2 linked regions of the Homo sapiens genome follow. The protein of the gene in region 1 purifies or fractionates together with the protein of each later gene. This does not show direct contact. Each region holds a gene or a part of one and is shown on either strand. Other genes may lie near its edges.

Region 1 (3,828 bases):
TCTAAGAAATACGAAAGAGGCATGTGTTCAGTCAAAAGTGCAACATAAACCTTAGTTGCTGTTGTCGTTATTCATAATGATGAAAATGATGTGGAACGCTGAGAGGCTGCTTTGGACAAAAATTTTCCGTAGGGTAAACAGTTCTGGTTCCAAATTTTCTTTATTGTTTCTTTTGTTCCAAGATTCTGAGTTACAAAAAGCAATTTTACAGATACCTGATACTGTCTTCAGCATATTAGATAGTTCCTCTTAAATAAAACTTGCATTTTAAAATGGACAGAAAAGAGTTTGACCCTCTTAATCTCTTAAATCCAAGCTCTCCTCAACACTATGCAGGTTATTGGAGGCTATGCTGGTCAGGTTTTACTGCCCAGGGACTTAGAGGGGCATCTCCATTTATCAGTGGCTTATCTAACTTTTAGAGTCCTTGATCAATTACACAGTGCTCATGGAAATGCAAATGAGCATGATCAATCAGTGTTATTGAAAAGCACTTTTGTAAGATGTATCAAAAACCTTTTAAATGTTTATATCTTATGCTCTAGTAATTTCACTTTAAAAATCTTTCTTCTTGAGGTACAATCAGAGGTGTGGTCACAGATATTGTCTAGACACTATCATAAGAGTACCAGCTCTGGGTTTCAATGCCAGCCCATCCACTTTTTTTTTTTCTTTTTTCCTCACTATGTCTTATGGTGCTAAGCTGCCACTTTCTAATTGTGCAATCTGGAACAAAATATGTAGCCAACTGTCCTGTGCCTCGTTTCCCTCTTCTGTTAAATGGTAATAATAGTAGGTTTGTTACAAAGATTAAATTCGTTAAATAGTAATAATAGTAGGATTTGCCAGGCACAGTGGTTCACACCTGTAATCCCAGCACTTTGGGAGGCCGAGGCGGGTGGATCACCTGAGGTCAGGAGTTCAAGACCAGCTGGCTAACATGGTGAAACCCGTCTCTACTAAAAATACAAAAGTCAGCCAGCCATGGTGGCATGCACCTGTAATCCCAGCTACTTGGAAGGCTGAGGCAGGAGAATTGCTTGAACTCGGGAGGCAGAGGTTGCAGTGAGCCAAAATCGTGCCACTGCACTCCAGCCTGGGCGACAGAGCGAGACTCTGTCTCAAAAAATAAATAAATAAGTAAAAAATAATAGTGGGATTGCTACAAAGATTAAATTAATTAAGATGCATAAAGAACTTGAAACAGAGCCCATCACTTTGTTAGCGATTCGACAAATGTTAACTATCATTATAAGCTATTATTGCAAAAACATTCATTGCTGTATTATTTGTGATAGAAAAAAATTGAAACAAGTTAAATGAACAGAAATAGAAGCATGAAGACATATTTTTGCACATTCATGCAAAAGAATATAATGTACCCTGGAGGCATCACATAATGGTTAAAAACACAGGCTCTGGAAACTGAATGCTGGCCTGCCCCTGACCAGCTGTGCGGCTTGGGACAATTTTCTCAACAATCTGAGCCTCAGTTTCCTCACCTGAAAATGGAGAAGAACAGTAATAGTGGGCTGACTGGCTCATACACATAAAGCACTTAGAACAGTTCCTGGCACACAGTCATTGCTTCATCAGTTAGTCTCTCCACTTACAGTCAAGTTGGTAGCCTGGCAGACTGGTGATATCTCATGCACACAAAGCTTCCCAGGCAGTAGCTGTGAAAGTACATGCCCTGGTAGGAGATGAACTGAACAAAGCCTAAATTTCCCTTTGTATGAATAGACAAAATGACTGATGCAAGCCCAGGCCTGGAGGCTACGTGCACAACCACCATGCAAAGGAACTGGAAAGAGTTGTTTCACTGCAGTACCAGAACAGACTGCTTTGATTAAGAGAAAAAAGAAAAGGGAATAAAGAAGACAGGCCCCCAAACAAAACCACCCACCAAAGCCACAAACAAGACTTGGCAAGAGAAAGGAGCTGAAAAGGCTTTCCTAAATCTCCAGTCTGCATCCACCTCTTTTCTTTTTCTTTCTTTTTCTTTTTTTCCTAGAGACAGAGTCTCACTTCGTTGCCCAGGCTGGACTGCAGTGGTGCAATCACAGCTCACTGCCTCGAACTCTCAGGCTCAAGCAATTCTCTCTCCTCAGCCTCCTGAATAGCTGGGACCACAGGCATACACCACCACGAGTGCAGCTTTCTTACATGGAAATATTGCGTAATGGTGAAGTCTGGGCTTTTAGTGTACTCATCATCTGAGTAATGTACATTATATCCAATAGGCAATATTTCATCCTTTATCCCCTTCCATCTTCCCACCTTTTGGAGCCTCCAATGCCTATTATTCCACTCTCTATGTCCACATATACCCACTGTGTACCTCCCACTTATAACTGAGAACATGCAGTTTTTGGCTTTCTGTTTCTGACTCATTTCACTTAGGATAATGGCCTCCAGGTTCATCCATGCTGCTGCCAAAGGCATGATTTCATTCTTTTTATGGCTGAGTAGTATTCCATGGTGTATATGTACCACACTTTAATCATCATCTGTTGACAGACACTTAGCTTGATGACTTTGCTAAAGGACAGCTTTATTTCTCATAAGGGTTGAAGCCTGCAGAGAGGCCATTCTGACAGGCTGGGAAATGTAGCCTACCGCCAGAAGCTAGAAGCAAGCACTTCCTCCTCACTGAGTTTTTGAAAGACTAAGGGAAAGAGAATAGAGAAGGGATATTTCCATCTACCGGGGAAAAGATGTGCAGTAACAAACCATCTTGGGAGACAGCCTTCTCACAGATTTAGAAAAGTATATTTAAATTTTGATGAAACTTTTCAAGTATTAAAGTTTGAGTTACAAGCACAAGAGAGGATAAAACAAATCCAAGCAGAGATTCAAATTGTCATATAAGAATTTGTAGGCTGGGTGAGGTGGTTCATGCCTGTAATCCCGCACTTTGGGAGGCCCAGGTGGGCAGAGTATTTGGGCCCAGGAGTTCAGAGACTAGCCCAGGCAACATGGTAAAATCCCATATCTACAAAAAAATAAAAAATAATTAGCCAGGCATGGTGGTGCATGCCTGTAGTCCCAGGTACTTGGGAGGCTAAGGTGGGAGAATCACCTGTCTGGGAGGTGAAGGCTGCAGTGAGCCATGATTGCACCACTGCACTCCAACCTGGGCAACAGTGTGCAACCCTGTCTCAAAAAAAAAAAAAAAAAGAAAAAGAAAAAACAAAAAAGCAAGCAGGCAAGCAAAAACAAACAAACAAATGAACTAAGATCTGCTCCCATGTTACCCCACCTTGCTCCTAAAGGTTGGATGTAGTTTCTTTTATCAAGGAGCAGGTTTACAACCAGCCTTGGAAGCCTGGAAGGTATTGAGATGTTTCTCTGACCCAGTAACCCCAATTCCTAGAAAGGACAGGGATCAGCAGTCACTACACTCTTCTTCCACCCAGCCCTGTCCAGAGCTGACCTCAGGTTACCTCACTGTCAGCAGCACCCCCTTCCTCAAGGACCCTGCCCCCAAAACCACACCTGGAAGCTTGAGACACCACCAGGTCGGTGTGCAGATGGCCGCTATGGATTCCTAGTGAGCATGGCTTGTGAGAAAAAAAGGCAGCCTCATATTGGAAGCCTGTGTTTCCTGAATGCCCCTGGACAGTGATGAGGAGGGGTGGGTAGGCTGCCATTGCCCCATCCCCTGTCTCCTCCCAGCCCTCCAGTGACAGCTCAGACAATGGTGCCCTGCATGTCTGGGTTTACTGCATGTGTTGAGTGTGGGAAGAGGGCTGCTTTTTTCAGATCTTGTCACTATCCTTCCTTGTCACAGTTCCAACACGGCTTCTGGGGCTTCTAGGGTCACTG
Region 2 (3,828 bases), about 110 Mb from region 1:
AAACATATGCAAGTAGAATTAAAGTGTTGTATCACTTATTACATTTAAAAAATGGACCTAGGACATTTAAGTGTTACTTCACTCAAGTTAGGAAATACTTTTGGCAATTCTTTTGAAGGAAGAGAGAAATAATGAATTAGACACTGAGATGTATGATACTCTAACACCAGAAGTGGGTGGATTTGCGGTTTGGATTTGTGGGTGCTGAAGAATTCGGCCAGCAGTGGAGCCAAATACCTAGAGAGCTTGGTTACTTCTCTTACTAAGAAATGGCCTCCAGAGTGGCTACATTTCCCAGAATCATTCTAGACCACAGATGTCTTCTCAGATCCTCCCTGGAATGAGTATTTGTTCTTAGAGTTATACGACAGTCAAATCGGTCTTCAAGATCGTTTTAATGATATTTATAAGATCATCTAGGATTTTGGGTCTGTTTTCGAATTTTTAATCTCTTTTAAGGGTCTGTTTTTAAATTTTTAATCTCTTCTAATATAATTTATTTACAAAGCTCTTTTGGTCTCACAGGAAAAAGGACCAAAGGTGGAAAAAAAAGTAGTGACCTATAATGCCCTGGGATCAGGACATTAGACTGAAGATGACTCAGTCCTGGCCTCACGTTAGAATCAAATCCTCTATAATTTGAAATGGGAAATAAAAATGCCCTTAGGTGTGAGATGACCTTGATAGGCTATTATGCTAAATAATCTGGAGAGAAGGAAAACATACCATCTGATTTGAAAGGTTTTAAGTCTTAATGAATGGATAGTTGACACGGTTATAAATGCAAATACTAGACACATATTGTCCCTTAATGTTTTTCTCATATTTCCTGATGTATTATCGCTGTCTCAGCATGCAGAGGTTTACTAAAGAAGCTAAAGCTGTTTAAATTAGAGCTAGAAATAAGGACTATCAATAACTATCTTCTATATTAAAATGAGAATTATATTTTCCATATAGCCTGTGGTAACCTGAGTGAGGTACTAATCTAAAATATATATTAGCTTGACATTCCTATCAGTAGAAGTTCTAAAGGGGAAAACCATTCATGAATAATTAATGAATTTCAATTGCTTCAATTTATCATGATTTGTTCAAGGATGTCTAAATGAGTCTATTTTAAATGATGGATTATCATTTTCAGAAACATATTTTAATAAAACTTCAGTGCTAGAATGGCTTCAAGCAAAAGGTTCTATTGAATTGCATACTGACATTATTTTGGTAACACATAGCAAGATCTACAAAAATGTTGAAACTCTCAACCCAGTTATCCCACTTGTAATTTAAACCTTAATAATAATTTGTAAGCAAAAAGCAAAGCTGACTACCTAACAATACTTCTCTGTATTATTATTTACAATGGTAAAAAATGGGAAATAGCCTATATGTTCAGTTATAGGGAGCTGTATATTAAATAAGCATTAAAAATTTCAAAGACAAAGATCACGTAGGTACATGGAAAGGTACTTATGATAAAATGTTATGTGAGATTGTGAAGAAACTGAAATAATAATATATATTTCCAATTCCTTAAACATATAAAGTATAATTGACAGATTTATACATTGGTATAACTATGCCATACTTTCAAATGGCATTAATTGGATTTCATCAGTAACAAAAGGACTATCACGTAAATATGCACTTGACGAATTATTTGTTGATATATCTATTTCAGAATAATGCCCATTCCATTCTAGTATAACTTACATTAAGTGAAAACTGAGTTTTTCAACAACTTATGAAATACTACTGAACTCAAGGTTGAATACAAAGTATTTTTCAAAAGTATTAATTTGGTTTTGAAGCAGCTACTTTAGCAGATCTCAATGTTTTTTATAAGTCTTCTAGATTGAGAAAGACAATTTTAAGTTTTAAAATTAAATGTTTTTATTTGTGTCATAAATTCAAAATGACATTAAATAGTTGTAATCATACAACCAGTCTTAAGACTTTTTTAGAGGTTACATGACTTGCTCCAGGTCATGTTCAGTGGCAGGCAGAATGAGAAAACAGGTTTCCAGATTCATGGATCCTGGAGAGGACTCCTCATTTTTTACCACTTGTATTCGTGCAGGATCAGTGAACATCCCCAGTCCACGCACCATTCACTGATTGAACTCACTGGCGTGGCATTATGCTTTACATTTTAAATCCATATTATAATATACACAACTATCATGTTACCAAACGCTTGCTAGCATTGTGACCTTTCCCCCTTTGGAATAGTTTTTAGGCAACTGAAATTACGGAGGGATTTATTTAAATTGAAGATTGAATTTTGCTATACATTTTCATTTGGTTCCCATAGCAACAATTCAAATCAGACAAGCTGCCTCTAAATTACTTATTGTTATTAGAATTCAATTTCATGTCTCTGTTAAAACTGAATAATGTTAAATAATGGCCTTGAGAAAAAAAATCTAACACAACTAATTGGCTATGAAAATAGCTTTAAAAACATCCAGCTAATTTAAATTTAATTTCTGTGTAAGCCTTAAAGCAGCAATCATGCCTCTACTGTAAACAACAGGAGTGACCTAAATGCATACAAATGTTTTCACCTGAATAAAACACCTTCCTAGAAAAAAGATGATTATTCAAATTCTAAACTGATTTTGAAGAAAAAAATCCAACTTTATTTATATTCATCTCATTCAAAAAAGTAGTTGAAACTGCAGGTGTATGGTTAAAATGAGAATCTATAAAGAGTGATAAAGACCGAGGGAAAAAAACATTTCAATGGACTTAATTTTTAAAATGTCAACATAATAGCATGCTAGGGCTATATATTATCATCCTGTTGTACAATCTCTTTATTTTTTCAGTTGAGACTCTGTGACTATCATAAAAAATTCCTGAGAAATGATTACACCACAGGGAGGAAAACCAGTCATTAAAGGCTGTGGTTTTGTGAGTGCTTTTGTTCCCTCCCATAATTTTCTATTGTTTTGGATAGAGGAAATCTATATAATGATGATGACAACAATGGAATGAGACTCACTGACTGGATATATGACATGCCAATCAATGTTCTGAGTGTTAAAATTCCATTAACTCATCTAATCCTCACACCAAGCTCATGAAGTAGACAGAATTGATCTTGCCAATAGTTTGTAAATACCTATTCTTACAATTTTTCCAAATCTCTATTTCTCTAATGAAAGATTCCTAAAGCACTCTCAATCTCTTCATATCCCAACTCAGTGGAACGACGGAGGAGAGGGTAGGCAAAATAACATTTCTTAAATGTTGATAAAATTGGTAATATCCATAACTGTACATATGTATGTGAATATTCACATTTTTTCTTCTCTTAGAAACTGTATTGCCCTAAACTGAAGCATTTAAAGCAACACTCTTCAGTCATTGCCCAGGTGTGAAGAACTAACTGCTACAGTGTGGCAACATTCCTCAAAAACCCATAACACCCTCCCTTGCCTGCACCCCTCTACTGTTAAGACCACAGAGGGTGGTCCTAACACTATGCTCTCAACATGCCCTTATTTTCTTACTATCCTAGGTCAATCCATTTTTTAACTTTTAAGTTCAGGGGTACATGTGAAGGTTTGTCATACAGGTACACTTGTATCATGGGGGTTTGTTGTACAGATTATTTCGTTTTATCATCCTTCAGGCTACTGAATCAGAACCTCTTCTATGATTTATTGAGCACATAATTTGCTATAATGAATAAAAACATCATTCTACATGGCTGTAAATAGTTTATACATAGTCAGATTTATCCTTAACAAAAAGCCTCCCATTTGTCCTCTACCAATATGCTGCAACCTCTGTCACCAATTTCTATCAGTGAATATGTGA

The links.
Region 2: the proteins of TRIM2 (region 1) and KLHL5 purify together in Homo sapiens (affinity purification with mass spectrometry; one large-scale study listed by BioGRID and IntAct). This does not show direct contact.

The regions. Positions count from the first base shown.
Region 1 is NC_000004.12:153,210,841-153,214,668, reverse strand, and holds part of TRIM2 (tripartite motif-containing protein 2), read right to left. Parts: intron 1-3,828. UniProt on the Homo sapiens protein: UBE2D1-dependent E3 ubiquitin-protein ligase that mediates the ubiquitination of NEFL and of phosphorylated BCL2L11. Plays a neuroprotective function. May play a role in neuronal rapid ischemic tolerance.
Region 2 is NC_000004.12:39,082,498-39,086,325, reverse strand, and holds part of KLHL5 (kelch-like protein 5), read right to left. Parts: intron 1-3,828.